4 separate regions of the Homo sapiens genome follow, and regions 1, 2 and 3 are each linked to region 4. The links come from fine-mapping of genetic effects on gene expression. A gene starts in region 4. Each other region holds a variant in brackets. All regions are shown on one strand. Distances are between the middles of the regions. Region 1 has its middle 130 kb from the start of PTCH1. Region 2 has its middle 83 kb from the start of ERCC6L2. Region 3 holds the start of LOC107987103 (a long non-coding RNA gene). Region 4 holds the start of ERCC6L2 (ERCC excision repair 6 like 2).

The links. PIP is the estimated chance that this variant, and not a neighbour inherited with it, causes the effect.
Region 1: its variant is fine-mapped to the expression of ERCC6L2 in CD4 T cells (BLUEPRINT, PIP 0.95).
Region 2: its variant is fine-mapped to the expression of ERCC6L2 in whole blood (INTERVAL, PIP 0.96).
Region 3: its variant is fine-mapped to the expression of ERCC6L2 in blood mononuclear cells (TOPMed, PIP above 0.99).

What each region holds. Positions count from the first base shown.
Region 1 is chr9:95,633,494-95,641,601 of GRCh38, forward strand. No RefSeq gene overlaps it. Among named protein-coding and RNA genes, the nearest start is that of PTCH1, 130 kb to the left of the region's middle. The variant A/T (reference allele first, on the strand shown) is at 4,366.
Region 2 is chr9:95,788,575-95,796,682 of GRCh38, forward strand. No RefSeq gene overlaps it. Among named protein-coding and RNA genes, the nearest start is that of ERCC6L2, 83 kb to the right of the region's middle. The variant C/T (reference allele first, on the strand shown) is at 4,101.
Region 3 is chr9:95,808,184-95,816,291 of GRCh38, forward strand. It overlaps ERCC6L2-AS1 (ERCC6L2 antisense RNA 1), which reads right to left. Exons shown (of 3, transcript NR_023390.1): 3 at 1-5,739. LOC107987103 (a long non-coding RNA gene) reads left to right here and starts at 7,156. Exons shown (of 2, transcript XR_001746851.2): 1 at 7,156-7,397. The variant C/A (reference allele first, on the strand shown) is at 4,312.
Region 4 is chr9:95,872,363-95,880,470 of GRCh38, forward strand. It overlaps ERCC6L2 (ERCC excision repair 6 like 2), which reads left to right and starts at 3,329. Exons shown (of 19, transcript NM_020207.7): 1 at 3,329-3,722. The coding sequence starts at 3,677. It overlaps ERCC6L2-AS1 (ERCC6L2 antisense RNA 1), which reads right to left and starts at 3,615. Exons shown (of 3, transcript NR_023390.1): 1 at 3,503-3,615. RefSeq lists enhancers at 2,500-2,629, 2,860-2,909, 2,950-3,049, 3,184-4,058, 3,190-3,419 and 1 more.

The DNA.
Region 1 (8,108 bases), 240 kb before region 4:
AAATTCTAACTGCAATCAGATTGCATTGATAAACCCTGGAGAGTTCTGGTTTGACTGACTGAATTTGTCATATTGCTGCACTCTTTTCTATTTTAAAAACTTGTACACGGCCAGGCATGGTGGCCCACACCTGTAATCCCAGCACTTTGGGAGGCCGAGGTGGGCAGATAACAAGGTCAGGAGATCGAGACCATTCTGGCCAACATGGTGAAACCCTGTCTCTACTAAAAATACAAAAATTAGCTGGGTATGGCAGTGTGTGCCTGTAATCTCAGCTACTTGGTAGGCTGAGGCAGGAGAACCGCTTGAACCTGGAGGTGGAAGGTGAAGGTTGCAGTGAGCTGAGATTGCGCCACTGCACTCCAGCCTGGCAACACAACTAGACTCCATCTCAAAAAAAAAAAAAAAAAAAAAAAAAGAAAAAAGAAAAAGAAAAAAAAACGTGTACATGCCCCACCATAATGCCAGGAAACATCAGCTTCAGTACTTTGTCTCTCATTGTATGACCCACCTTTCCCAAATAGAAGCCCTCCCCAGATCATTAACATCCCATGCGAAAGATGGATTTGTAACCCCGTTAGTGCCTAAGGTGTTTCGGAGTATGATGATTGTCCTTGTGTGTTGATCTGGCTTGGATCTGTGTCCAGCCCAAATCTCCTGTCAAATTGTAATCCCCAGTGTTGGAGGTGGGGCTTGGTGGGAGTTGATTGAATCATGGGGGTGGATTTCCCTGTTCGTCTTGTGATAGTGAGTGAGTTCTCGTGAGACCTGGTCATTTAAAAGTATGTGGCACCTCCCCCCTTTCCTCCCGCTCCCACCATGTGAGACACCTCACACCCCTTTGGCTTCTGCAGTGATTGAAAGCTCCCAGAGGCCTCCCCAGAAGCTGATGCTGCCATACTTCCTGTACAGCCTGCAGAACCATGAGCCAATTCAACCTCTTTTCTTATAAATTACCCAGTCTCAGGTATTCCCTTAAAGCAGTGTGAGAACGGACTAGTAAATGTGTTCTAGGTGTAAGTGCTTCTTTGTAGATCGTTGCTGCTGTTCACATGCAGAGCACTGGAGACACAGGAGGATTAATTAAGGGCCCAGATTTGAGAGCCTGTGGGGCACCCTCCTTTAGAAGCAGGAGGGCAGGCAGAGGCACTGGGCCCAGGCAGCATTGTCTTGTTTGGAAACCCTGCGGACAGCCTCATTCTGGTCATTTTTCTAATTCCTGTCAGTCTTGATTCTCCATGAAGAGCTGTGCTGGCCTCGATGAGAATGCCCCTGGGGAAGCGATGACCAGACGCTTGCCTTTAGGGAGAGCTGTGTTCTCTCTGCAGGTCTTTGAACTTCCCCAGAGCAGTTATCTGGCCTCTAGAACTTATCCAAAATGTTTTCTTCAAGAAGCCCATTCCCTCGCCTGCAGCAGTAGTGTGGCACGGCCACTCTCTCATCTGGTTTCCAGCAGTTGGGTAGGGAGTGTTGTTTGCCTCCCGGACAGCACACACACAAGCTGGGGCTGCCCTCCACATGTTCTTGGAGAATTGGCACTCAGACCCCTTTTCCTGACTCTTTGTTAACATACACTTCAAATGACTGGGCAGGGCTTGATCTTAATCAAATGTCTCCTTAATATCTGCCCTTGGCACAGATCCAATTCCTGAGCACTGTCTATAGAGGCATTTGTGTAATACATACATATACTCACACATATGGCCACACCACCCACCGTCATAACATAAAGGTCCCAAGCATATGATGAGCCTATTTTTTTTTCCGGCAGAGATGGTTTAAATAAATGGACAACATAAGTACTTCTCCCAGCCGCACATCCTCAAGGTCAGCAAGAAGCAAATGGGGTAAAAAGTCCTGAGCCTAAAGTTCTCAACCTGTCTTGTTTTAAGCTGTGAGTGTAGGTGCAATCGGATGAGTGTTTGCTGGGGAAGTATCTGGATATTTGAACCCAGATTCCCATGTAAGATTCTTTCAGCCCATTGAGGAAGATGGGTGCACACCAAAGGGGTCTTCTGGAGATGTGGTCTGAGGCAAATGTAAGCTCCAGAGCATACAGCTGTGTTTTTCAGCAGTGAGCTCTCAGGACTACCTGCATCTAATATCATGGGGAGCCAGTCAAAATGCAGATTCCTGGGCCTCACTCATGACTGCACAACTCAGAAGACATGGAACCTAGGTATTTTCATTTTTATAATATTTCCTGGGAGATTCTAAAATATATATGCGTTTGAGAGCCATCGATCCAGAGATTTTTAAGTAGAGGAGCACATGAGAATCACTCTCAGCACTCTGTTCTCTTTATATATACATATATATATATTTGTCTTTTTTTTTTTTTTTTTTGAGACAGGGTCTTGCTCTGTCACCCAAGCTGGAGTGCAGTGGTGCAATCTCAACTCACTGCAGCCTTGGCCTCCTAGGTTCAAGCGGTCCTCCCACCTCAGCCTCCCGAGTAGCTGGAATCACAGGTGCACACCATCACACCCGGTGAACCACTGTGCCTAGCAGATTTTCATTTAATACATTTGGGGGTGGATCACAGATGTCTGCATTTGGAAGAAGTACCATTGTGATTCCAATTCCAGTGCTCCTATGTGTCCCAGTGGTCCTCTAATTTTGGCAGGTGTGCAAGAGAATGAATGGGGGTAACATGGAGGGGTGGGGTTCCCGTTAAAGGTGGATTCCTGGACCTTGCCTTTAGAGTCCTCTGCATGTTCTGATGTGGGAGCCCTTGAAGACAGGGACCCACTGAGGGCATCCATGGACTCACCCCCTTGCCACTCCCCCGGTCCCAGGGATTCCAAGACCACCTCCTTGCCCTTCCCACCCTGCACCCTTGGTACAGTCAGCACTGGAGCCAGGCCTGCCTATTGAGGGCGGGAATGTGCTCTGCAGTTTCTTCTTCCAGGGGATTATTCTAAGGCACTCCCCACCCTTCCTTTCATTTGAGTTCCATTTCCCTGGGATGATGATGACAAGTGCCAAAGAAATGTCTAGACCACAGATTCTGAATGTGAACAAAAATGCCTTAAAGTACAAAAGAGATTTTCTGCAATGTGAAGCCCAGAGGATTTTTGGTTGTTGTTGCATTAAAGCAGTGCCATAGAACAAGGGGTGGGGTGGGAAACAGGGAGGCAACCTCTCCGATGGCTTTGCTGCTCTGGTCAGTTAATACTTACCAGGTGCTAGGAACAGAAATTGTGTTCATCATGAAGGATCGATAACCCCATTACCCCCATCCTTAGATACCACAGCAAAGTCTAATGGTTTCTTTTTTTTTCTTTTTATAATAGTTTTTGTTTTTAAATAAATTTTAATGTTATCGAAGTAATATATGCACATACTTTTGAAAGTCAGATATCACTTCCAGGAAATTTTTCTCATATTTTTCTTTGTTAATTTCCTGTCAGTGTCTTTTCTACTGTCTTTTTCTTGAACTCCTTTGCATGTTGAATCTCCTGGCTTAATCCTCTAATTGCTTATCTTTTTCTCTTCTGTAGTTCATTTTTTTTATCTTTCCTCCTGTCTGCCGGATTATGTTGTCTTTTTAAATCCAACCCTCTGTTGACATTTTTACTTAGCTGTACTATTTTTAATTTTCAAAATATCTTCCTCATTTTTAGGGTATCCTGGTACTGCTTTAGGGACGTGATATCTTCTATTAATTCTTTGAGTTTACTGACTTCTGAAGTTTTAATTTTGCCCTCTAAATTGCTTCTCTTTCTTCCAAGGTACTGAAAAGGACCAAATCTCCTGAACTGGGGGCTGGGGAGAGAAGAGATTCATTGTTTGTGTTCTGGTTTGGGGGTGAGAGGAAGCTGTGAGTATCACTGTTCAGAATGAAGGTTTTTATTTAGAGCTTCTGTTTTCAGTTCATTCCAGATGCCTAACTCTCCCCATGCCTGAGTCTTTGTGCTCAGGGTCTCCTTAGTTGTGTTACACTAGACTGATGCTGTCTAATACCATAACCTCTCACCACTGATGGTCCCTGAGCACTGGGAATGTGGCTGGTCAGAATTGAGATGTGCAGTGAGTGTAAAATACATACCTGATTTTGAAGACATTACAAAAAACAGTAAAATATCTCAGTTTTTAAAGTACTGATTATACCTTATCTCAATTTGTAAAGTATTGATTACACATTGAAATAATGATATATTAGGTTAAGTAAAGTATATTATTAAAATTAATTTTACCTTTCTCAATGTGGCTGCTGGAAAATCTAAAATTACATCCAGGGCTCATATTATATTCCTGTTTGACAATGCTGCCCTTCTGTGGCTGCTGGGAAAGGGATCCAGTGGCCTCCCTGCTCCTGTCTTAGTCCCATGTGTCTATGGGAGCCATTGCCTCAAGTTCCTG[A/T]TCCTTTCCAGGGCTCAGCAGAACAAATCCTTGCTACTCCTTGGCATCCTCTGCAGCCTCTTGGTTTTAGCTTTCTCTGTTAAATTTAGATTAGTTACTATTGCCTCATGTGCTTTTCACCTTCAAAAAGTTGATTGAATTATCTCTTCTGCCATTCTCTTAGCATTTATGGGTTTACTATTTTCCTTTGCTGTTATTTGAGTGGGGTTTTGGAAGGGAATGGAGATAATGCTTGTGATCAATCTGCCATTTGTAAGTTCTAATGGCCCCTTGAATCAAATTAAATTGTCAGCTTTAAGGCACATGATAATTTCCCCTCTATGCCTAAAGCCTGTTAGTCAGCTTGGGGTGTCATAACAAAATATTGCAGATTGGGTGGCTTAAACTACTGTGATTTATTTCCCACAGCTCTGGAGGCAGGCTGATTGGCTCCTGGTGAGGGCTCTCTTCCTGGCTTGCAGGTGGCTGCCTTCTTGCTGTGTCTTCATATAGTGGAGATGGGAGAGGATGCAAGCTCTCTGGCATGATTTTGTATAAGGGCACTAATCCCATCATGAGGGCTCCACCCACATGACCTCATACAAACTGAATTATCTTCCAAATGCCCACCTCCAAATACCATTACACTAGGGGTAAGGGGTTCAACTTATGATTCTTGGGGTAGGGCATGTCAGTCCATGGAGCACCCTCCACACTGGCTCATGTTCCTTACTTTGTCATTTGTTCTCCTCCCCCACATGCTTGCCACCAGGATATTCACCTCAAAGTTTCTTTCATGTTTTTCATAGCAAAGCCTTGTTTCTGTGCCTTTACTATATAGCCTGAAGACTTTTATTCAGAAATTGACAAGACAATTTTAAGTTTTGTCTGGATAAGCAAAGGACCAACAATAGCCTAAAATATCTTGGAAAAGAAGAAAAAAGTTTCTGGACTCACAGTACTTGACTTTAAGACTACGCATCAGGTCTGGGTGGCACTGGTGGAAGCCTGTACATGTCAGTCAGTGGGACAGAATAGAGTGCCCAGAGACGCACCACCCACAAATAGATGTCCAAATAATTTTTGATGAGTGTGAAAGCAATTTAATGTACATAGAAAAATCTCTTTACTAAGTTGTATGGAAACAATGGGATATTCATATATATATATGTATATATATATCCCTTTGTGTGTGTCTATAACCTCAATTCCTACTTTGTACCATATCTAAAAATCAATTTGAGATGGGTATAATATTTACATATAATATCTAAAACAATAAAGCTACTAGGAGAAAACCCAGAGGAGTATCTTCATGACCTTCAGGTAGGCAAAAATTTATTGGGGAGGTTACAGAATGCACAAGTCATAAAAGAAAACAGTGTATGTAAATGAAACTTCATCAAAATTCTGAAAAACTCCATCAAGAAAAATCAATAGGCAAGCTGCAGACTGGGAGAAAATATTTGCAACACATACATCTGACAAAGGACTTGTATCAATAATATGTAAAGAACTCCTGTAACACAATAATAAAAAGACAGACGCCCAATTTTTTAAAAATGGGCAAAAAACTGACAAAACAAAAGAACATATACAAATGGCCAATGGTTATATGAAAATGTACTCAACATCATCAGCCACCAGGGAAATGCACAATTTATCATAAGACACTATGACATGCCTGCCCGAACACCTGAAATGAGAAAGACCAACACCATCAGTGACTGGAGATGCGCTTTGTGGTTCTCTTGACTCAGTGATGCCCAGTCTCATTCCAGAAACATTTAATTCTGCTCAGTCAAAACTCAACACCATCCTGGCTATCATGGTGAAACCCCATCTCTACTAAAAATACAAAAAATTAGCCAGGTGTGGTGGCAGGTACCTGCAGTCCCAGCTACTCGGGAGGCTGAGGCAGGAGAATCACTTTGAACCTGGGAGGCGGAGGTTGCAGTGAGCCGAGATCGCACCACTGCACTCCAGCCTGGGTGACAGAGGGAGACTCCATCTCAAAAAACAAAACAAAACAAAGCAAAAACTCAACAAACATTCCATGATCTCAAAATGTTCTACCTGATGGGACAGGTTTAAGAATACAATTGAAATGTCCATAAAACAATGTCTTTCAAGAAGAACGAGGAGATTTTATTAAGCAATCAATTTGTGTAGCCTGTTTTGAGGAGATTTTCCTAGGTTCCCAGGATATTCCACTTGGCCCCAGTGTGACTACTCAAGAATGGGAAGGAGTCAGGAGTCTGACTTTTTAAGGGTTCTCATGTGAGGGTGATGTTCCTGCTTAAGAGGAGGGGATTTGACGGCGACTTCTCTTGGCCTCCATTCCTTGTCATGTGGGGTAATCTGACTCAAGGATGCCTCCATGACAGTTTCATCATATATGGCACCAGCTGTTGTTGGAGTGGGAACTGGGTCTTCTCTGCAGTCAGGGGAAGTTGGAAGCATTCAGAAGATGCCCAGAGCATCTGGAGCCTAGTTGACACAGTACTTTATGATGGCAGATGGAGGCACATGTCGCAGGAGATTCCGGAGTGGTTCGGTGTCAGCACCCCTGCAAGGCGGGGTCTTGTTAGTTGACCTAAGAGATTCCATTCCAATGTGCTGAAGATGGATTTTCAACTTGGCCTTTGCGGAGGCTAAGAAAGATTCATTGCAAATTTCTGTTTACTTGTCTGGCTTTCGTGGGATAGCCAGTGTTTTCCCTTGTTTTAGGTTATCTTTGGCTGGAGGGCAAGAAAAATAGTCAATGATGTCTTGGAAGTTTAAGCCTACACTATATGGCTCTTTTAAAAAATATTTGGTTATCCAGAAAGATATTTCTTGTGTTTCTACATCTAAAATTTCTCTGTGGTTTGGCAGGACCAAAGCTTTTCATGGCTGCCAGTCATATCTTAATTGGATCACCTTGTGGAAACTTCAGAGAGGTTTTCCTAGAATTTGTTTCCAATTTCTGATGTCGACCCAGCATTTATTATCTAAGGTGAGACAGACACGACAATCTCCTCATTTCCTCTCTCTTTAAAAGGACGTGCTGCATTTTTCAAAATACCTCCCAAAGAGTGCTCACTGGGAGGAAAATTCTCCTTTCTTGGCAAAGAACGTTCTTGCTAGCTCTGTTACTCCTCAAATGATAGTAACTTATTTGCAAATTCTATTGAGGAAATAGCCAACAGAAAATTCAAAGAAGGGGGAGAAAAATGCACTTTGTACTCACACCTAAACCCACTGTATTTTTTAAAAATTGTACTTATTTGAGCCTACCTTGTATTATGGACTACAAAAGTGCCTGCTTGCTCTTTCATTTCTTACAAAATTATAAGCTCCTTGAGAGCAGGAAAAACATCCATTCCTCTTTTACCCTTTCAACATCAGCCAGAATGTCTGACATGTGATAGGTGCCTGGGATGTATTTGTGGAATTAAAATGCTTGAAATATATCTCTGGGGAACACATGAGAAGTTATTAAAATATTTTCCAAAAATATTTAATGGCACATACAGGTTTAATTTTAAAAAGCCAAGCACACACTTTACACATAATAGGATTCAACTTTTGTTATAAATAGGCACAGATACATGCACTTAGAAAAAGGACTGGAAGGAAATGTGAAAAAATAGTAAACAAGGCAATTTCAGGGTGGTGAGATTAAAAGATAATTTTAATTTTTAAAATTTATGATTTTTGTCAAATTCAAATTATCTACAATAACCATGCATTGCTTTTATTAAGCTTTTTTTAGAAAAAAA
Region 2 (8,108 bases), 84 kb before region 4:
TTCATTCAGTGGGTAGAGTTCTGCCAAGCTTCAACTGCTGCCATGAGTTAGCTAGAGCCAAAAAGGACTGAAAAAAAAGACTTTTCATAGAGAGATAGGTGGACAGTTACGCTCTGGCTGGCATGCCCACTTTGCCTCTGCTGTTGAACAAAAGGTCCCCATGCAAGGTCAATGCGTAATGAGCCACAGTTCAGCTGGAAATACATTTTCAATGGCTTCCATCCCTTTACAGAACAAAGGGGAAAGCCCAATTCAGGTCAGCACTTTATAGCATCCTCATTTGATGAGAAAGAACATTTTTTTCACTGGCTGCTGGCACAGTCTCCCTGCTCGTGGGAAGAAGCATCTTTGATCCACTTGGCACAGGTGGTGAGGTTGAGTCCTGTCACTGTCCGTGCAGAGCTCAGCCGGCATCTCTGCTTAGAGATATACTGCATATTATCATATGCAGTGCAGGCAAATAGACCTTCATTTCTCTCTGGCCCCTTCTCTCCTTTTTCCTCTACTCTTTTGGAAGTACTTGAAAACCTATACCTTTCAGAACGAGGAAGAATCTACATTTTTAAATTAACAATAATATCTTTTATTTGGCCTGATTTTATTTTACTTTATTTTTTATATTTAACTTGCACAACTTGATGTTTTGATATACACATACATTGTGGGAAATCACAATCAAGCTAATTAATATATCTATCACCTCACATTGTTACCATTTTTTTCTTTTTTTTGTGGTGAGAACACAAGATCTACCCTCTTGGCAAATTTCAAGTATACAATACCGTATTGTTATTATATTCACATTGCTGTACATTAGACCTTCAGAAGTTATTGACCTTGCATCACTGAAACTTTGTTTTGTATCCTTTGACGAGCATCTCCCATTTCTCCCTCCTCCAGCCCCTGGCAACCACCATTCTATTCTGTTTCCATGAGCTCCACTTTTCTGGATTCCACAAGTAAGTGAGATCATGCAGAATTTGTCTTTCTATATCTGGCTTATTTCACTTAGCTCCGTGTCCTCTGATTCATCCATATTGTCACAGTCTCGCTCAGTTGCCCAGGCTGGAGTGCAGTGGCACGATCTCTGCTCACTGCAACCTCCGCCTCCTGGGTTCAAGCGATTCTCCTGCCTCAGCCTCCCAGTAGCTGGGATTACAGGCGCCCACCACCATGCCCAGCAAATTTTTTTTTTTTTGAATTTTTAGTAGAGATAGGGTTTCACCATGCTGGCCAGACTGGCCTCGAACCCCTGACCTTAAATGATTCGCCCACCTCGGCCTCCCAAAGTGCTGGGATTACAGGCGTGAGCCACCCGGCCCAGCCAGGATTTCCTTCTTTTTAAAGGCTGAATAATATTCTGTTGTGTATGTATCACATTTTCTTTATACATTCATCCAAATTGTTGGACACAAAAGTCGATTTCATATCTTGGCTATGGTGAATAATGCTGCCATGAAGATGGGAGTGGAGGTACCTCTTTGAAATACTGATCTCATTTCCTTTGGATAAATAAAAGAAGTAGGATTGCTGGATTAAAATGTGATCTAATTTTCAATTTTGTGGGAAAATTCCATACCTTTTGCCATAATGGCTGTACCCATTTGCATTCCTTATGTATAAGGGTTTCCTTTTCTCCACATCCTCACCAGCACTTCTTATCTTTTGCCTTTTTGGTAATCTAACAGGTGTGAGGTGGATATCTTATTGTGATTTTGATTTGCAAGAGGGAGAATATTTTTGATTGTGAAACACTCTGATTTTGTGCTATGCAATATGGTAGTCACTAGTCAGTCATGTTGTAACTATTTAAATTTGAATTAATTAAAATGAAAAAAAAACCCAGCCAGATCCTCAGATGCAGTAGCCACATTTCAAGTGTTCAGTAGCCACGTGTGCTACCATACTGGACAGTCCAGATTATAGAACATTCCCATCAGCACAGAAAGTTCTACTGAACAGCACTGCTGCAGATCCTTGCTATTTATTTATTTATCTATTTACTTTTGAGATGGAATTTGCTCTGTCACCCAGGCTGGAATGCAGTAGCATGATCATAGCTCACCGTAGCCTCGAACTCTTGGGCTCAAGCAATCCTCCCATCTCACCCTCCCAAGTGGCTGGAACTACAGGTGCACACCACCATGCCTGGCTAACTTTTTATTTTTTTGTAGAGATGGGGTCTCACCATGTTTCTCAGGATGGTCTTGAACTCCTTGCCTCAAGCAATCCTTCAACCTCAGCCTTCCAAGTAGCTGAAACTACAGGTTCATGCCAGCATTCTCGGCTTTCAATTTTTTTGTAGAGATGGGGTATCACTATATGATTTCCAGGCTGGTCTTGAACTCCTAGCCTCAAGCAATTCTCCTGTCTCAGCCTCCCAAAGTGCTGAGACTATAGTCATGACTGGCCGCACCTGCCTAGATTCTTAAAGTTTGGTCTATGGTCCAACAGCATCAGCTTCAATGGTCATGTTTTAATTTAAAACATAAGTTGTTAAAATAAATGTCAATACAAGATTCCTTCCTTATTACTTACCTTCAAAGAAAGTAAGACCTTAACTTTATAATATCTTTTCAGTGCATAGAATTAAAATAAAAATTTTCATCTCAGACTTGGAAATATTTATTTTTAATTCCTTTTTGGTAAATAAATTATGCCATATTCTTAAAAATGGAATATCTGTACTCATTAAAATGATATTGTAGAAGATTGTTTATGGCATGGCAGAATTCCATAATGTATTTATTTCTATTTGTATTGTTTAATTTCTTCACAGCTTTATTCTGCCTGACACAATATATTGCTGAGGGGGAAAACTCCAAATTACGAGAGCAAATACAGTACTATTACACGCCCAGAAGCACACACACAATCCCAGGAAAAGAAGGGATGTTTATTCAGATGTTAACCAAGGTTAATCCTGCAGACTGTTAGCTATGGATAATGTTGATTGCCTCTCCTGTGTCCATCCCCCCTACTTTCCTTTAGAGTAACTTGTCACTTTGGGCTCAATATCTCCCCAAGCCCTGTTTACTCGTGTGTCTCGGGCAGTTGACTGCTTTCATGGTTCTCTCTGATTGCTCAAAAAGGAATCCCACCCATTTGTAAGTGTTGGTTAAGGAGTGGGCGTGTCACCCAGTTCTGGCCAATAGAATTTGAGGAAGAGTCCATTAGAAAGCTCTTACAAGAAAATGTCTTGCTTGTAAAAGAGATGAGGAAGTCTCTCTTTTTCCTTTCAATGTGGTTATGTCTTGTTGTAACACCTTGAACTACTGTTGTCACCATTGTAAGAGCCAATGGGTTGATGTTAAAACCACACTGAAGACGGCAGATCAGAGAGATGAAATAAATCTGGATTTTTAATGACATCAATGAACCACTGGAAAAACCAGCCCTGAAACCCACCCACCTGGCCCTGGACTCCTTGTTATGTAGTAGTCTGTATTGCTTAAGCCAGGGCTTCTTTCTCCTGGAGCTGAAGCACACAAACAGATATAATGGGTAATTTTAACTTCTTCTTTTGGCTCATATGAGTTTTCTAAGTCTTTTTATATGAGAATGTATTTCTTTTGTAATATTAAATAAAACACTAAAATCGGACCGGGCGCGGTGGCTCATGCCTGTAATCTCATCACTTTGAGAGACTGAGGCAGGCAGATCACAAGGTCAGGAGTTCAAGATCAGCCTGGCCAATATGGTGAAACCCCGTCTCTACTAAAAATACAAAAATTAGCCAGGTGTGGTGGCGGGTGCCTGTAGTCCCTGCTACTTGAGAGGCTGAGGCAAGAGAATTGCTTGAACCCGGGAGGTGGAGGTTGCAGTGAGCCGAGATTATGCCACTGCACTCCAGCCTGGGCGACAGAGTGAGGCTCCGTTTCAAAACAACAACAACAACAACAAAAACCCAATAAAATTATTTCTTTAATACAAGGGGAAAATAAGCAAAATATGATAACCTTTTGTCTTCCCACCAGTGAGGTGCCCCTTTCCATTGAAGTGAAAAAGTTAGCTGAATTATTTTCGTTTCGTTGCTACCAAAAATGAAAAAAAAATCTTTTAGTTTATAAGACCCACATATGAACACTTAGTGAGTTTGA[C/T]CCTCCCAGTGCTTAAGTTACCACAAAGGAACAAGGTGGGGCTATGGGGCTATTTATGACAATCTTGCTCCATGATACTTTCATAAGATCTCTAGGTCCACATGAAGCCGTGAGATGCAGAAGCCACCTTGTTAGGGACACTTCAGATTCGGAGATGACACACAGAGGATGTGCCAGGCGCAGTGTTACTCTCGCAATTATTTACAAAGTTAAATTTCTTAGAAGACTGTCTATACTCATCAGTTCCAATTCATACCCTCCCATTGATTTTTGAACTCACTGTGATCTGGAGTCTTTCGAAGGCCATGGATGATCTTCTTATGACCAAGTTCAATGGTACTCTTCAATGACTGTCTCACTTATGTCTGCGGCATTCTTGTTTCTTTACTGTCTTTTGAAATTTTTTCTCCCTTGACTTCTGATACTCCTGATTTCCCCCTTCCTTTCTGTACACTCCTAAATCTTCAGGCTTCTCTCACTCTCCTCACCTCTTACAGGTTGAAATAGCCAAGAATTTTTCCTTCTCTATTGTCTTTTCAGTGACCCAAATCCTCTTTTTCATGTGATTGGGTCTCACACTGCCACCCAGGCCAGAGTGCAGTTGCACAATCATAGTTCACTGCAGCCTCCTTCTCCTGGGCTCAAGTGATCCTCCTGCCTCAGCCTCCCAAAGTGCTGGGTTTACAGGCATGAGCCACTGTGGCCCCAAATCCTTTTGATTAGTACTATTCAGTAGAAATTTCTGCAGTGATGGAAATGTTCTGTATCTGTGCTGTCCAGCAGGGTAGCCAGTAGCCACACTTATGTATGCAGGATTTGAAATGTGGATAGTGCAACTGATTGTCTAACTAAGTACATATTTTCCTCTACTTTTAGAATATTTTGGAAAAAAATATTGGGGCCTCAGTTTTGTTGAAATAATTGCTTCAGTTCTCTGCTGGATGAGTCTGCAAAGATCTAGGTGGTAAGATATAAGGCCAATTGAGTAGTCTAGTTAATCCTGTACTTTCCACACTGTAATAAATTTACACTCTTTTCTCTTAAAGCTTACATGTAGTGAGATGTCCTGTATCCAAGTCCTGCCAATGTGTTACTCATCTTGAACTGGCTGAGGTGAGGATAGGAAAATACCTCTCCTGTTGGCACTTTTTAACTCTATCCCTAGCCTTTATTTGAGCTAAATTTCCTATCCCCAGGCAGGTTTATATGCAGAATTTCACTGCTGGTTTACCTTATTGCTTGTTAAATATCTGGCCATCCTTTGATTATTCAACCTAAAATCCAGCCATTGCTTCTTCTATACTTTGTTCATTCATCTTTGGTGAGTACCTCCAGCTCAGGAAGAATAGGAATATTTTGCAGTGTGGAGATGGGAAGGACCAACCACCGAGAATTTTAATGATCAACTCTGGACGATAGTGTAAAAAACACCAGAAGAAAGTGATGTAGTCAGCATTACTAAATTTCAGTGATTATAACTTTTGAAGCTCACTAGCAAAAAAGAAAAAAAAAAGTGTTATGCAAATGTACCTCTCTCTTTTCTTTATTTCCTTTTCCCAGCAAAAACATTGTAAATTGCTAAAAGTCTTCTGGTGACTTGTCATATTTGGCACGAGTTTAATTGGTTTTGGCAATTGTGTTTTAGTGACTCATGAGAGAATACTTTTAGTTTTTTTACTAACAGATGTAGCAGTGCCTGTGCTAAAAGCAATGACAATAATGTCATAAGGTTATAAAATGGCAGGAATTTGCTGCTGGTGGTCCAATAAAAACAAACTAGTATGAAGAGGGAGCTGTGGGAAGATAAGATGTAAAATATACAGTGCTATAAATGTTTAGTCACAAAAGATCTGATCTTTTGTCGTTTATTTAAACAACACATGTTGAAATTGGGAATCTGCACATGATATCCTAGGAACCACTACATTTTGAATTCAATGTGTTTGTAATCATATTTCATTTGCATCATTGCTCTCATTTCTTGTTCAGGGAAGTGACTCTAACACCACTAGAAAATTGAGATGATATCCTACTCATACTTTGTTTCTTTAAGAAATGTCTTTTTGAAAACTGTGTTATATTTCTGGGTCTTTAAAACGGTTATCATTTCCCCTTGCATCATCTGATTGGATGGCCATTACAACTAGAGAAGTCACTTTCTTTTGAAACATGAAATACTTATGCAGCCAATGTTTGAATGCCCATTTGTCCGCCATGAACTCTGCCAGGTATTGGAGAAACAGCTCTGGACAAGTCCCTGGCCTCCAGGAGCTTACCGTCCAGAGGGAGAAAAGGCAAGAAGATACTTGTGCTGCTTATTAAAGGCTATGTTAGAAGAACTATACACTATGTCAACATCATAGAGATGAGGTCCGTTCATGTGGGATATTCCCAGTCTCCTCTCTAGTCCAGACCAAAGCGGCATTCTACTTTGCCTCCACCTCAGTCCTGTGGGGTGATTCTGTCTTTGCCATCCTTGATGGTGGATTTTCATGTTTTCGAATAAAGAGAATGGGGAGAGAAAGATTGAAAAGGTGTGAGGAGGTCAGTCGCAGTGGCTCGCGCCTGTAATCCCAGCACTTTGGGAGGCTGAGGTGGGCGGATCACCAGGTTAGGAGATCTAGACCATCCTGGCTAATGCAATGAAATTCTGTCTCTACTAAGAACACAAAAATTAGCCGGGTGTGGCGGCGCTTGCCTATAATCCCAGCTACTCAGGAGGCTGAGGCAGGGGAATTGCTTGAACCCGGGAGGCAGAGGTTGCAGTGAGCTGAAATTGCGCCACTACACTCCAGCCTGGGCAACAAGAGTAAGACTCTGTCTCAAAAAAAAAAAAAAAAAAATAGAAAAGAAAGAAAAGGTGTGAGGAAAGGAAAGGGGAACAATTATTTTTTCCTAGATTAGTTCCTGGGCTTCAGCATTATGAAAAAAAAAAAATCCTCATGGTGGGGAAAATAGAAAAACACTTAAAAAGAAGTTGAGGCTGGGTAGAGTGGCTCACACTTGTAATCCCAAAACTTGGGGAGGCCGAGGCAAGAGGACCCCTTGAGGCCATGAGTCTGAGACCAGTCTGGGCAACATAGTGTGACCCTGTGTCTACAAAAAATACAAAGAAAGAAATCAGGCAGCTGTAACTGCTAGGCTGGAGTCCTACCTACTTGGGAGATTGAAGTGGAAGGATTGCTTGAGCTCAGGAGTTTGGGATTGCAGTGAGCTGTGATCATGCCACTGCGCTCCAGCCTGGACAACAGAGAGAAACCTTGCCTTACAAAAAGATAAAAGAAAAAAAGAAGTTGTCGAGGGGCTAAGCCATGATACATAAAAACTGATGAGCAGATTACAGAGGTCAATATACCTCCAATCAAAAGGCACACCCCTGACCAGTTCCCCCTGACCTGGGTCTAGGCCAAGGCTCTCAATCCCAGAGACAGAAGGGGATTTGCTTCTCTTCATCCAGTCTCTTGCTAGTCTGTGGCCCATTTACGCAGTCACAGCAAACAATGGCACATTTCCAGCAGTTTGGAGCATCGGTGGTGTGCTCCAGCGCCAGGTGTAGGCACTGGCATAATGCTCCCTGGTGTGCTGTGAGAGGCCCTGCCCAGCTCCTGTTCAACATCTCCTCCCGCATAAGGCAAGAGTGGAGCATATGTGTACAGAGGACCAGACACACGTGCATATGCACACACACACACACACACACACATCTCCCAGGAAGCACAAACCTTAATTCGAATTTAGGAGAAAAATACCCTCTAAATCTGCAAGAGTATAGTACTACTCAAAATTACACCACAATTAATAAACTAAACAACAAACTCTGTAAATGAAAGACTTGAATTACGATTAGCTATAATTAAGATTAGATTTCCCTAAGATTAATGAGCGGCCGCTTGTTTTATACATGTTTTCAAGGCACCCATTCTGGTCATTTTACCAAAGCAAAATTTGCTCAAAAGATGTCTCTACTTCTAGAAACAGAAAACTGCTAGAAAATGATGTTTTTTAACA
Region 3 (8,108 bases), 64 kb before region 4:
CCTGGGAACTATTTAAAACCTTTGCCTTGGGCCATTCTGGCTTTTTGCCCAGAAAAAAATGCAGATTAAGGGAAGAAGTCCAGAATGCAGCAAATAATACTTCAGTATTGTCCCATTTAAGCATGTGTTTTCCCAGTATAGGATTGTTCACTAATCATGTCTAACCATGGACAGTCCTCATCTGTCCATAGTCTCACAAGACTACAAGGTCCGCCTGCCCCAGTAAATGTTTGTGGGACTTAGAATCTCAAGAAGAAAAAGTATGAAATATATAAGTGGCAAAGTTAACAGAGTTTACAGGAAGAGATCAACACTGGCTAACAGGAGTTGGGGAGGCATTTTATACATGAGGATGGGATAGCTGAAGGGTGGTGAGAGTTTGTGAATAGAGGAGGGCAACCTAGGTTTCATGAGCCAAGGTGTAAATTGGTGGGCAAGCTCTTGGGGATAGAAAGAGCAAAGGCCTGGCCTGAATGGAGGGTTTGTGTGAGGGAACATGGGAAAATCATGTCTAATCCCAGAGTTGTCAGATTCGCAACATATTGACAGTGGTTTCTATTCTCTGTCTCCTTTTAATTCTCTTGCATTTAATATTTAGATGGGATGACTTTTGTCTGACTGCATTTCCCAAACCTCCCCGCTTCCAACCACATAAATCAAAGCAAGATTAGATTTTGGATTTACTTTTCTGTATGTTCGGCCACTAGAATCCTCTAGATTTTTCACACATAGGAGTTAAACCCAGGGATTGTCCATAGCCATGCCACAGATCACTGGGGGCATGAAAGACTCTTCTAGAACCTGAGCCTGCCCAAAGCCAAGTCCAGTAGCAGACACCATGTAAATGACAAATGAATATCTAGAATAATCAGGTTAGGTTTGCCTTGCTATCATTATCATATATCATATTCCCAATTTCTACAGCTGGATCATTTATCTTTTATGATCAATCACTGCACTAAACCAATGTGTTGATAATCATTTTTTTCAGGTATCTTTACTGTTCAGATTGTTGGAACATGTAACCAGCAAGAATATGAGGCATCATTTACTTTCTTAATCTCTGGGCTTATTTAGCCATTCACAAATATCAGGCTCTTTTAAAAAATATTGGTAGCCTCTAGCAGTTAGAAGGAGGTGAAGGTCTAGGTCCTTTCCCTCCCACTACCTCACCAGGACTTGTTTTTAAATGAAAGCAAGTCTCAGACCAAATTCTGCCTCATACACACGAACATTTATTGGGAGGTAAGTACAAAAATAGCCATGCAACCTCCTCCTCTCATTCTCTTGTCTTTTTAGGTACTTTGGAAAGCATCTTGCAGGAAATATTTACTTTGTTGTGGTCACAACAAAATTTTAACATCAGAGTAGGTGACAGAGATGACATAGGTGGCTCTCCATTAGGTGGGGACCATAGGACAGAATTCTATCCATAAAGAGAGAGAGATTCTGTCACTCCAAAGGTGGTCAGCTGCTGGGTTTGCCAGATCAAGGGAGGAGGTGCCAGTGGAAGTCTCTTCAGCCAACTACATGCCTTAGCATCACTCATTTCTTCAAAGAAAATTTCCTTCTAACAACCCCTGTGATAACAAATAAACCCTCTAGGGCAGATGGAGAAGGACTATTTAAAACCTTTGCCTTGGGCCATTCTGGAACCTAAATTAAGATTAGGGTTTGTGAGTCAACTACTTAAACTCACACAGTTTTTCCTCTGCTCTTACGTAAAAAAAAAAAAAAAAAAAATAGTGAACACAGAAGACTTCAGTGACAAAATGTGGGGGTTTCCCCAGACACCAAGCAGAAGACACAAGCTGAGTGTCTAATTCAATTCAATTCTGTGGCTCATGCCTGTAATCCCAACACTTTGCGGGAGGATTGCTTGGGGCCAGGAGTGTGAGACTAGCCTAGCCAACATGGAGAAACTCTATCTCTACTAAAAAATACAAAACTTAGTCAGGCGTGATGGCATGCACCTGCAATCCCTGCTATTTGAGAGGCTGAGGCAGGAGAATCGCTTGAACCTGGAAGGCAGAGGTTGCAGTGAGCCAAGATCAAGCCACTGCACTCCAGCTTGGACGACAGAGTGAAACTCTGTCTCAAAAAAAAAAAAAAAAAAATTCAGAGGCTATCTACCTGTAGATGGCCTCAGATCCCACAGGTTAAGGGCTCAGTACCCTAAACTGATCTCCCTTTCAGACACCAGTCACAAGTTGGGGCCCCTGGAACATCTGCCCAACTGACTTCAAATTGGGGCTCCCACCACCCACTCTTTGGGTTTGATTAATTTACTAGAGTGGCTCACAGAAGTCAGGGAAACATAGGTTTACTGGTTTATTATAAAGGGTATTACAAAGGATATAGATGAAGAGATGCTTAGAGGGAGATACGGGGGAAGGGGTAGGGAGCTTCCATGCCCTCTCCGGGTGTGCCACCCTCTAGGAAGCTCCGTGTGTTCAGCTATGCAGAAGCTCTCCAAACCCTGTCCTTTTGGGTTTTTATGGAGGCTTCATTCTGTAGGCAGGATTGATTACATCATTGGCCATTGGTGGTCAACAACCTTTCCACCCTCTCTGGTTCCTGGAGGTGGGAGTAGGGGGCTAAGAGTCCCGACCCTCTAATGCTGCCTTGGTCTTTCCTGTGACCAGTCCCTGTCCTGAAGCTACATAGAGGCTGTCAGCCACTAGTCAACTCATAAGCATACAAAAAGACACTATCACTTTGGAGATTATAAGGATTTTAGGAGTTGTATGTCAGAAAATGGAGTCAAAGACCAAATATATATTTGACAAAATCACAGGGTTCTTGACATGTTAACCAACAAATGCTGACTAATCACCCTGAGGCACAGATGAAAGCAGGGTAGTTATCATCTGGTTTGCCTATATTTTAGGTTCTTCTCCCTGTAATCTTCAAAAGCTGTCCTAAGCCACCTTGAGTAAAAACCTAGCCCAGGTTACACAGTATGCTGCTGTACTCCTGCCACTTCCCTGCTGGGCCCCTGGCACCTCCCAGCCCCTCTGTCATCATAATGAGAGCACCACTATTGGATTTCTCCTAAAAAGAAATGTAAGAGCCACACGCTGGAATCCAAATTCAAACGACTGATTTCCCAGAGACCCAGAGGCAGCTCCTTGGATCCACACAGAGTAGATGCTGTGAAGCAACATCTCAGGAATGAAAAATGTGTTCCCTGAGCTGCCAGGAGTTCTGCAGGGGCAGGCCTCACTTGTCAGGCCTCTCCAGAATTGCCCAGGCTGAACACAACAACTTCACCTGAGATGACACCCCCAAGCTGTGAGTTCTTGGAGCAGTCACATTGAAAGACTCACCAATACTGGGCCCCCTTGCCACAACACTTCTGAAGTTTGATCTCAGCTCCAGAACACCCACCTTCTTCCCTGCTCAATCCTGCTTCTTTCTCGTTGCTCACAGATGTTGATCCCAAGAGTACTCCCCAATAAACCTCCTATGCACTAATCCCCATCTATGGGTCTGCTTCATACCTTCTTTTGGAACCATTTACTCTAAAACCATAGGCTTGCAGGGATGCCCACTCATCTTTGCAGCATGTGCAGTATAACCATCCTAGAAAAGTTGCTGGGAGCATCCTGATCTGGAGGGACCCAAGGTATGGCACCAAGCAGGTGTGGACTCTCTGGGGTCCAGTCCATCAGCACCGCCTCTTCTGTGGATGCCTGCATTCTGCTTCAGGACCCTGGTGTCTGGGTTTTGATTGTGTCCTCAATTGTACAAAAGATGATTTTTAAGAACCATGTCTTATATTTAGTTTTCATTTGTATTGAAGTTGTATATGCACCTAGTTGAAAGAATCAAATGATTCTGCAAAGCTGATGTGACAGAGACTGCTGGTTGAGCACTAGCATCATTCCTCACCTTCTTTAATATCAGGGCTCCAGTGTCTTAGCTGAGCACGTGGCTAACAGCTAGACCCTATGCTTCCCAGCCTCCCATGCAGCTGTGGTCCTTATGCCCACATCCTGACCGATGGATGTGTGGCCCTTCTGGGGCATGTTCCTATCAGTTATGCACATGTGCTCTCCTGACCCTGTCCTCCTTCCCTCTGGCTGGGAAGACAAAACTAGAATGGCTGCCTTAGTCCCACAGGTGGAAGCTACGTTTTGAGGATCATAAAGGTGACTTTCCAACCCAGATTGCTTCTCTTGAGATCATATCAAACAGAGAAACTTATACCTACCTCATTTAAGCTTCTGTATTTTGGTGTCTTTTTGCTAAAGCAGCTTAGCCTGTAATTTCATCCATATTGCTTGTTTAAACAAACAAACATACAAA[C/A]AAACAGTCTTCTCCATCCTCTTTTCTTTTTCCCAGAAGCACCACCATATGTTTAAATATTACATTTCTATTGATATTTCATGTTTAGGCATTATCTATTTGAGTTTCCAATTTGGAAGATGAATATTTCACTGTCTCCTTCTCTCCCACCTTCACCTCAGCCTCCCTTCTCCCATGCATACTCAGCACCCACTCCTCCATATTCCAAAAATACTTATGTTGTAGTTTTGGATAGATCAATAGATATTTAGTATTTATACAATCATGATACTGCAAGTGGTATATAAAACAGTGTACGAGCCAGGCGCGGTGGCTCACGCCTGTAATCCCAGCACTTTGGGAGCCTGAGGCAGGCAGATCACAAGGTCAGGAGATCGAGACCATCCTGGCTAACACGGTGAAACCCCATCTGTACTAAAATTACAAAAAATTAGCCGGGCGTGGTGGCAGCCACCTGTAGTACCAGCTACTCGGGAGGCTGAGGCAGGAGAATGGCGTGAGCCTGGGAGGCGGAGCTTGCAGTGAGCTGAGATCACGCCACTGCACTCCAACCTGGGTGACAGAGCGAGACTCTGTCTCAAAAAAAAAAAAAGTTACGATGGATGTTTTGACTTTCTTGAATAACATTTTGTTTTCCCTTTGAACTTTTATTCTTTATATTTCCTTAGCATCCCATTTGCTTGCTATTAATTCAACCCTAAACAGTGTCCCTATTGTGTGATCTCTCAATATATTCAAACACACTGGGGATATCATTAGCTTCATCTGTTTGAAGAAATCTTCCTAGGGCTTTTTTTTTTTTTTTTTTTTTTTGAGACAGAGTTTCACTCTTGTTGCCCAGACTGGAGTGCAATGGCACAATCTCAGCTCACCACAACCTCTGCCTCTCGGGTTCGAGTGATTCTCCTGCCTCAGCCTCCCGAGTAACTGGGATTACAGGCATGCACCACCATGCCCAGCTAATTTTGTATTTTTAGTAGAGATGGGATTTCTCCATGTTGGTCAGGCTGGTCTTGAACTCGTGACCTCAGGTGATCCATCCGCCTTGGCCTCCCAAAGTGCTGGGATTACAGGCGAGAGCCACCGCGCCCAGCCCCTAGGGCTGAGTATGGTTCCCTCTGGATTGGCTGCTCACTAAGCCTGATGAGTGTGTGTCCCATCTGCCATCTTATAACTGGATATGAGTCTTGGTTCTGTGTCTTCTGATTGCCATGCAAGTCTTGCTGCCTTCAACAGCTGCAAAGGCTGCTGTGGCTACATGACATAGCATGTTTCCTTAGTCTCAATGGAGAGGACTCTATGTGGAAGTATTCTCTTGGTGAAGGGCTTCTCCTGAGAGCATTAGCAACCTTCTGCACAATGAAGGGATTGGAAGTCTCCAAGCTGGATGAATTTCCTCATTCTGGGATTTCAAACTTCAAACTCTTCCTGGTGGGCAGAAAAATGGACACTTAGTTAACAGCCTTTTCAAAAACATGAATTCAAGATATTACTGTTTAATTGCTTCAATTCAATATTCTCTTGACTACATCATTACACATGGACACTAGTCAATCTTCAATTTGACAGAATCCTCAAATATCTTGGGTATGGCACTGATGCATAATCCTTTGGTCCTTGTCCAAGTACTGGTTTAGGTATAACTTATCAAGAATGCCTGGAATCTAAACAGCCAAGTTTAGAGCTTAAACAGAGCCTCCTTCCTCAATGTCCTTCACTGCCAACTAGCCAGAGCACCCCCCAGCTGCTGGGGGGCTCTGAGAAGACCACTTTCTTTGGTGTATTTTATTACAGGCTAAACAACACCCCTAAACAACAACAGAAACTCTCTGAGGTTTCCCAATGCCTTCAAGTGGCTCTGGGAAGGCATTGGAAGGCTTTGGATGAAATTACAGGCTAAGCTGCTTTAGCAAAAAGACACACAAAATACAGAAGATTAAACTATGCAGGGAGTCTGGGAGAAAAGTTAAAGAGAGGAAACTGGTCAACAATTGTCAACCTTATCTTCTCTTCAATTATCTTTCCTAAATTCCGGTATGATTTTGGTTGCTTGAACAATCAGCGTGGTCTGATGAGAGCTTATCAGCTGCGAGTAGCAGGAGAAAGAAGTGAAGATAATTATTTCCCACTTGGAGCTGAATAAAGTGAAGCTAAACCACTAAATGCAGCTCCCTAAACACACACACACACACACACACACACACACACACACACACAGAGCAATACACAAACTCAAAGCTTGATAATTTTAGTCTGGCTATTGATATTTCAAAATTGCATGGGAGAAAATTGTTATGAGTTGAATTCCAGTTGGTTTCAAAGGCATTTCTAAATTTGTGCTTTTATACCTGCAGTCATTACCTCACGTTTCTGAACGTCTTCTACAGAGCCTATGCCAGGCGCTGCTGGCTACATACACAGGTCACTAACAACAAAGCAAGGTGGGATACATTAAATAGCCAATGGGATGGGAGAGGAGGAGATGGGACTTTATCCGCATTTTAAAGAAAATATACAATGCCAAGGAGGGGCAAGCAGTCCCTGCAAGGGGAGCGGCATGAACGTGGGGAGCAGGGGAAAAGACGGGCCTGGCATGAATCTGGCACACTCAGAGAGCAATGAGTTTGTGTAGCGCAGCGGATTCAGGTATAGGAGTAATAACGGCCCCTGTGAGGCGGTAAATGGACTCTAAATTTCGGTTGAGCATCAATGCCGACTTAAAGGATTCGCACATCTTGAAGGCATTGGGAAACCTCGAAGGGTTTCTGTTGTTGTTTAGGGGTGTGGTTTGGTTGGGGAGAGAAGGAAATGTGATATATACAAGACGCTGCTTTGGGATGAGTCATCTGACCGTGGTGTACAATGGATCAGAATGGAGAGAGAGTGGGAGTGTTCGGATTGTTGCGGAGGCAGGGTGAGGAGCTGGGAGCCTGCGCTAAGGCTACCCATGACCTACAGGCTGTGCGAGCCACGCTGTTTCCCATCTTGTCTCCGTTCATCTTCCTCGTGCCCTATGAAGTCGGTATCCGGCTCCATCTTACAGACCAGGAAACTAAGAGCAGGCAAGGTCCAAGGCCACATAACAGGTAAACGCACAAGTGGGACTGGAACTCATTTTTTTGTCTTGACTTCGAAGTCCATGTTCTTTCTACTATGACACATCAGCCTCTTTTTTTAAAAAATGGTTAATAATAGCGGTGACAGAGGACGTGGGAGGGACCCTATTTGGAAATGAGTTATCTATCCTTGCAGACTCAGCGTCCTTACATTGCACCACGACAGCATGAATAAGTCCATATCCTATTACTTCCCACTTGGTACTTAGGGAGTAAAAACCATTCCATGCTGTAAGAGTCTCTCTGAGTGCTAAGTCTTGTGATCGCGGTGAGATGGAAAGTGAGTAGCCAAACATGTTTCAGGTTTGTGGGAAATTGCAAAGGACAAGACAGAAATCATAAAGACGCAATTGAATTACACTGTGTCGTGGCCCCTGGGATAACAGCTGTTTTCCAGGTCTACAATCGTTCTCATTAGTAAATTAAAAACTCGAAGCTCCCCATCCGCGGCCTTGCGCTGCTAGGCCACGTGGTGACAGGAAGCCCTGTGTTTGTACAGGTGGGGGAGCGAGCAGGCTTGCAAAGTGGGTGGCGGGAAGCTCTGCCTGGAGCACAGGTGGGGAATCCGAGCAAAAGCAGACCCCGGCAGAGGCCCGTGTGTTCCGGCGCTGTCAGCTCCCCTCTGCAGAGGGTGGCGTGGAAGGCAGCCCTCCTTAGGCCGCTGGGTCAGCTCAGGGCCAG
Region 4 (8,108 bases):
CTGGAACGACGTATGAAGGGAGAAATGCTGCAACCTAAAATCATCTAACTAAAACTCAAAAGACTTAATTTCTTGTGTTGTCTTAGAGTTTCATATCTATTTTTTTCTGGAGCCTTTTTGCTAGATTAACTCACAATTCTGGAGATCTGTCAACCACATACAGATATATATTTGACTTTTGCAGTGTGAAGATAAAGAGAGACTATTTTTTGGCAAATTATTGGTGGGTTTAATCATCCTTCCATGAGCCTGTTTTGAAATGCCTGTGTTATCACCATCTGTGTTATTTTTTTCTCTTTTGTAGTTTTAATTGGCTTAATTTTTGCTAGATCCTCCTTTGCCAAAAGTTTTGTATGTGATTCAGTTCATTCATGTGATTTATCCAACATCACACATATTAACTACAGGAATTCCTTAATATTTTACAAGATATTCAGTTTAACTTTGAAGTGACTGGTCTGACAGCGTTAGATGTTCACAATATCAGCACCTAGACAAGGATGTCAATGCAAAGACAAAAGCTACTGGGGGAAGGAATATTTGAGAATGTCTAACTTTATGAGGCAACTAGTTCACTAGGACATATTTTCATGTCATGATTATTTCTGCTTCAGTATACACTGTAAGTACAGCAGTGAGGTTAAATAATAAACACTCAGAAAATGAGGGCCGGGCGCGGTGGCTCACGCCTGTAATCCCAGCACTTTGGGAGGCCGAGGCGGGCGGATCACGAGGTCAGGAGATCGAGACCATCCCGGCTAAAACGGTGAAACCCCGTCTCTACTAAAAATACAAAAAATTAGCCGGGCGTAGTGGCGGGCGCCTGTAGTCCCAGCTACTTGGGAGGCTGAGGCAGGAGAATGGCGTGAACCCGGGAGGCGGAGCTTGCAGTGAGCCGAGATCCCGCCACTGCACTCCAGCCTGGGCGACAGAGCGAGACTCCGTCTCAAAAAAAAAAAAAAAAAAAAGAAAATGAGGTATCCTCCTCTTTTGTTAGTCACAAGGGTATTCCTTCAACCAGATGATACCTCCCATTTAAATCAAAATTTATTTCTGAATTTGCTTATCACTTCTATTAAGAGGTCTGCTCTGTCAAGAGCTACATCTTAACTCAATGGACCTCTGGAAAAATAAGACAAAATTACACAACTAGTCATTTCAGAGAGGGGAAAAAAATCAAACTTCTTCCCTGGTAGTTGTAGGGGAAAAAAAGAAGCTTGATTAAAATTTCAATTTGCCATTTTGATTTTAGAGACAATGTGAAAAGAGATATAATCCATCAATAACAAGCAGCAGATTTTTCTAGATTTTAAGATTTCCAATATCAGGGTGCATGTCAGAATCAAGAATTACAATTATAATTAGTAGTGTTTTTCGCTGTGTCGCCAGATTAGAGTGCGGTGGCGCAAACTCGGCTCACTGCAACCTCTATAGACCTCCCGGGTTCAAGCGATTCTCCTGCCTCAGCCTCCTGAGTAGCTGGGACTACAGGCATGTGCCACTACGCCCAGCTAATTTTTGTATTTTTATTAGAGACGGGGTTTCACCATATTGGCCAGGATGGTCTTGATCTCTTGACCTCATGATCCGCTCACCTTGGCCTCCCAGAGTGCTGGGATTACAGGCATGAGCCAACCGCGCCCGGCCTATTAGCCAAAATATTAAACTGACATAATGGCTATGTAGAATGCAACTTTCAAGTGGATGCATTCCATTGATAATAATAGTAATAACAACACATATATTCCTTACTATGACCAGCTACTGTTTTAGGAGTTTTACTTAATTATCTAATTTTTTACAATTACCATTTTTAGGTAGTTTACTATTATTAGCTTCACTGTAATGGTGATAGGTGAGTACAATAAAACACGGAGAAGTGATCTGGCCAACAACTCACACATAGATGGCTGAGTTAGATGTTTCACTTAGGCTTAAAGTTATTGCCTGCTGGTAAGCAAACAAGTCATATTTTAAATGAAGCATTTTATGAACACATACTACTAGTTTTTAGTATCTGCCATAGAATTGAGATCTATTTGCAAACAGCCATATTGTTTTCTTAAGACACTACTGTAGGCAGAATAATGATCCCCCAAAGATGTTTATCTCCTAATTTCCGGAATTCGTGAATATATTAGCTTACATGGCAAAAGGATTCTGCTGATGTGATCAAGGGCAGAGACCTGGAAATGGGAAGATGATCCTGGATTACTCAGGTGAGCCCTCAGAATCTTTTCCAGCTGCAATCAGCGGTAGACTTGAGGATGGAAGGTTCAGAGAGATGGCATATCACTGGCTTTGAAGATGGAGGAAGGGACCAAAGCCAAGGAATGTGGACAGAAGCTGGCAAAGGCAAGCTAAGGATTGTCCTGTGGAGTCACCAGAAAGGAGTGCAGCCCGGGTGACACCCAGGTAGCACTTCTGATCTACAGAACCGTGAGATAATAAATGCATTGTCTGTCAGATGATAAATTTGTGCTGTTTCAAGCTACAAAGTTTGTGGTTTTTGGTTATTGTGGCAATAGGGAACGGATACAGGCCCTGTCAGGTATTTCACTCAATCCATGAAATACCTTACAGTATACAAATTTTAACATGCGCGGGAGCCACTTACGGATCCGTCTATCTGTGCTGCCTGGGAGTGTCAAGAGGCCGTGTCCTTCATTCACCTCGCGCGTGGGCGGCGCTGCCCTGAAGATGCTCCCGGGCTCAGTGCAGACGGCTCAGCGTTCTCTCGCGTTCAACGAACCGCCAGAAACGTCAGATGGTACGGAGGAAAACACTTTACACTTTAACAGTATTTTTACGTTTATTTGCAGCAAATGTTGTTGGCTTTGTATTTAAAGTATTTATGACTCACTATAAAGTGTAGGATCCAAGAAAACGCGCTAGTTTCACTTGGCCCCCGTGGCTGTCCCGGGGAGCTCTCCAAGGAAGGACTGGTTCCTGAAGTTCCTGGGGTGCTGCACCACCACGGAAGAACCAAGCTCCACAGAGAAGCCAGAAGCCGCGACCGCGGGGACGCTCTCTGCCAGGCCTCCACCGCCTCAGCGGCCCTTTACAGCCACCGCATTCTCCATGCCCCCAGTTATTTCTAGCTTCGCACAGCGCCCGGCCCACCGAGCGACCTCAAACCTCGCGACACTCGCAACTCCCGAGGCCCTTCCTGCTACTGGCCTCAGAGGGAAGAGACATCGGGAAGATTGCTCCGCCCACAGAAAGGAAGATTTCGTTCTCGCGAGATCCCAATGACAATTCGGGAGCCCGTTCTCGCGGGATTTTCCAAGACCGGGTTGGAATTTGCGGGGGTTAGGAGACGGAAGTCAGAGCCTAGGAAGATTTGGGGGTCGCCTTGCCGGCCTCCTGTCCTCCTCCGGCGGCGGCGGAGCCCGAGAGAACTAGGTGAACACCGCTTTGCCAGCCTCACACAGCGTCCCCTGGCTCTGCCGCCGCTCCGGACGTCGCCCTCCCGTTCTGCTTGGGTCCCCTTAGTCGCTACCTTTGCTGGGATCCCCCTCCTCCATCCTGTGGCTTCGGGTTGCCGAAGAGCGATGCTCGGAGGGCGGCCGGAAGTGGCGTTGGCCGCCATTGGCCTGCCGGCCAGCCACCTTGCTGTCCTCCGCCGCCTTCCGGGTGTTACATGCAGCCGGGCTCGGCCCCTCCCCCTGGCCGGATGGATCCGTCGGCGCCACAGCCCCGCGCGGAAACCTCAGGCAAAGGTACCAGCTCCGCGCTCGCCCCTTACGCAGAGGCCTGTGTACTGCGTCGCGTTGGACCAGTTCTTGCCGGTGCCCTTCGGGTTGGGGTTTTGCCCTGTAGATCCTCTTCAGTGACAGCTGCAGATTGTGAACCCCTCCAGGCCTGGAACCAAATCTCCGATTCAGTGTTGAGAACCTGGACTCGGGAGTCAGCCCCTGGGATCTAGTGCTGCCTCTGACAGTTACTTGCTGAGCAACTTTGGGCAGGCTCCTCATCTGTAAAACTGGGTTCATTACTAGGTTCTTGCGATTATTAAATGACGTGGGGAATACGCAAAGTATTTATGTGACCCCGCGTGTGGCCCATATTAAGCACTCAGTAAATGTTATTTTCATTCTTTATTCTTGTATGCCCCAGTTGTTAGTGAATGGCAGAAGTTTGTTGTAAGTAGATAAATGAAGGTTGAGATATTTAGTTCAGTTGAGTTTTATTGCCTATTGAGTCAGGGCATTATATTCTGCCTTAAATAGGAGGTTTAAAGAAGGTGTGATTATCTACCACAAGTCACCTGGGATGCCTTCTGGCACCCAAATGAGTAGTTTTCATTAATAATTGTGCTGTATAACAAAAGCTACCAGGTATTGAGTGATTTTCCTGAGCCCAGCAATATGCTGATTGTTTACTTGCTTTCCTTTGAGGAAGATATCGATCTCATTAAATAGATGAATTCAGAGCTAAAGTTCAGAGAGGGCAAGTTACAAGCCTGAATTCTGAGGTCTAGGAATTGATGACGCTGTAATTCAGGGACCAAACATATAAATACCTATAGGAGACTGGCAGCTAAAAATAGATGAAGCTGCCGAGTGGATATTGTGACTGGGAGGCTCATTCCTTTTGATAAATCTAGTCACTCTTGGTATTTAGGGAAATTGGTGGAAGGAGCAGAAAGCTCCAGGGCCCCGAGGTGGGAACACCCTTGAGGAATGCTTGAGGAGGCCTTTGGAGTGAAAGAGGGAGAGAGAGACCCTATCACCAGAATGAGTTGAGTTGGTAATTAGTTTAAACCAAAACAAATGATTTCGACTCATTAAATTTTAGGACACTTAACCCATTTCCCTGTTAAATCCAACAGGAAATCTTAACAATTTAAGCAGTTGTTCTGTAGTTTGGATACTGAGAGATTCCATTTCTAACTCAACTGAATTTATTTCGTCCTAGAAATTATCCGAACTCAAACCCAAAATACTCCAATAAGTTGTGTGATTCCCTTAAGGCTTTTTTTTTTTTGCACATGCTGTACACTTATCTGAGATACAGTTCTTAGACCCCTTTCCCTTTTAAATTACATTTCTCAATACTCCCTTCTCATAGCACTCTTCTTCCAATGCAGTTTTTACAGTTATGTATATGTTGGTGTACTTTTTAGTTTTCTCGCAAGATATCAAGGATTTGTGAGATTGATAATTTGTAATAGGCCAGGCGCATGGCTCACACCTGTAATCCCAGTACTTTGGGGAAGCTTAGGCGGGAGGATAGTTTGAGGCCAGCCTGGACAACATAAGCGAGACCCTGTCTCTACTAAAAATAAAAAATTTAGCCAGGCATGGTGGTGCACACCTGTAGTCCCAGCTACTCAGGAGGCTGAGGCGGGAGGATGGCTGAGCTCAGGAGTTGGAGTTTACAGTGAGCTATAATTGTGCCATGACACTCCAGACTGGGCGACAGAGACACTCTTGTCTAAAAAAAAAAAGAAAAAAAAAAGAATGTGTAATAAATTCGCATGTTCACTGAATGTCTGCTGTGTGACTCTGTGTTGGTCCTGGGGATAAAATTTATAACAGTACAAACTTTTCTTGGAAAGGAAATTACTCTCTACTGGAAGGAAAAGACAAAAAACCAGTGGACATGATAATTAAATGTTATGATAAGTGCTACAGAGGCAATAAAATGATGAGATAGAGAATAATGGGTACCCTACGCTAAATAGGTGGACTGGGAGCAGAGAGACTGGTTAGGCATAATTTAGGGAAAGTTGATGGTGGCATGCTTTAAGACAGAGGTCTGCAAACTACTGCCTGTGGGCTAAAACTGGTCTGACACTTTTTTTTGTAAATAAAGTTTTATTGGAACACAACTGTGCCCATTTGTTTATGTATTGTCTGGTTGCTTTTGCATTACAAGGGCAAGAGACTGTATGGCCTACAAAATCTAAAGTAACAAATAGCTAATAACTGACTCTAGAGAAAATGTTTGCCAGCCTTTGCTTTAGAGAGATAGTGGCATGGAGGAAAGTGATTCATTTTTGAAGTAGAACCAGGATATTCTGATGGATTGGATGTAAGGAGTAATATTAAATGAGGTTTAAGGGCTGACTAATGGTTTTCTACCTTGAAAAGTTGGTTAGATGATGATGCCAGTTTTTTGTTTTTTTTTAAATGCCAGCTTTTTTTTTTATTATACTTTAAGTTTTAGGGTACGTGTGCACAATGTGCAGGTTAGTTACATATGTATACATGTGCCATGCTGGTGTGCTGCACCCATTAACTTGTCATTTAGCATTAGGTATATCTCCTAAAGCTATCCCTCCCCCCTTCCCCCCACCCCACAACAGTCCCCAGAGTGTGATGTTCCCCTTCCTGTGTCCATGTGTTCTCATTGTTCAATTCCCACCTATGAGTGAGAATCTGCGGTGTTTGGTTTTTTGTTCTTGCGATAGTTTACTGAGAATGATGATTTCCAGTTTCATCCATGTCCCTACAAAGGACATGAACTCATCATTTTTTATGGCTGCATAGTATTCCATGGTGTATATGTGCCACATTTTCTTAATCCAGTCTATCATTGTTGGACATTTGGGTTGGTTCCAAGTCTGCTATTGTGAATAGTGCCGCAATAAACATACGTGTGCATGTGTCTTTATAGCAGCATGATTTATAGTCCTTTGGGTATATACCCAGTAATGGGATGGCTGGGTCAAATGGTATTTCTAGTTCTAGATCCCTGAGGAATTGCCACACTGACTTCCACAATGGTTGAACTAGTTTACAGTCCCACCAACAGTGTAAAAGTGTTCCTATTTCTCCACATCCTCTCCAGCACCTGTTGTTTCCTGACTTTTTAATGATTGCCATTCTAACTGGTGTGAGATGGTATCTCATTGTGGCTTTGATTTGCATTTCTCTGAGATGATGCCAGTTAATAAGATGCAGGAAGACTATTAGTCACCATCATTTTTGACATTAGTTTTCTTCATTTTATACCCATTGTGTGGTATAATATTTGGTGAATAATTTGTGCTTAAATCACATATGTTGAATAATAGATAATAAAATAAGTCTTAAGAAATGATAGGGTAGGCAAACACATAATGGGAAATATAAGTAATGTGTTAAGAATTGCTGTAAGGGTTGCTTTAGGTTTTAAGGTGCAAATAGTACTGTTATGAAAATTGGGCCCATTGACCTATATGTTGTTCTACTTGTACAGTGGATCGAGGCTTTAGTTTGACATTAAAACACTCTTTTAGAATGGTGTAACAGTTGTCAACAGTTTGGGTCCAGAGAGTAGAGTGGGAGAGAAGGTTTTTCCCTCTGTACTCATTATTGTTATGGTAAAATAACCTCATCAAAGTTAGTGGCTTTACTTTTAAGGAACAACTGATGGATGAGGAATTTAATGAGCTATTCTTGCTTTAGATAGTATAAACATGTCATGTTGTAGTTATAAATATCTAACTGGAGGTCATCAGGAAGACCCTAGGAAACTGCCAGTGGTTATCTGATCTCAGTGAGAAATGTATAGGAAAAATAATTCCTAGTGTTCTTATGTTTGTAGCCATAGAATTATTTTTGGATTCTTGCCATAAGAAATTCCATTTGGAAAATTATTTTTACTTAGTTTTCTTTATTTGATACTTTTTAATTGTACCAATAGTATACTGTGGACTCCCTCCTCATTCATAGTGGTATATTTTCTGGGAAAATAAAATAGCTGTATGGTTAGTCACAGAATAAGTTCATAAAGAGAGAGGTAATACTCTTTAAAGTGTAATAGGATCTTTGCAGAAAGAGATCTTAGAATTCATCTCTTAAAGTAAATATTCAAAACCCGGAAGAGGAAAAGCTGTGACATCACTGTAGTTGAATTGGAGGTTCCCATGGTTAGCTGTATACAAGCAGTGGTTAAAGTAAAGGCTTAGAGGCAACAATATTGCAGTGAAAAGAAACAGCTGTTTCTAGAGAAAGGCAATGGAATAACTGTAAAAAAGACAGATGAACCACAAAGCATTGCTGTCCAGAGGATTTTAGTTTACTCATTACCAAGTCCTATTCACGATTACTCTACCATATCATGAAATATATGTATATATATATGTTCATGAGTCAGGAAGAATATTTTAGTCAGTG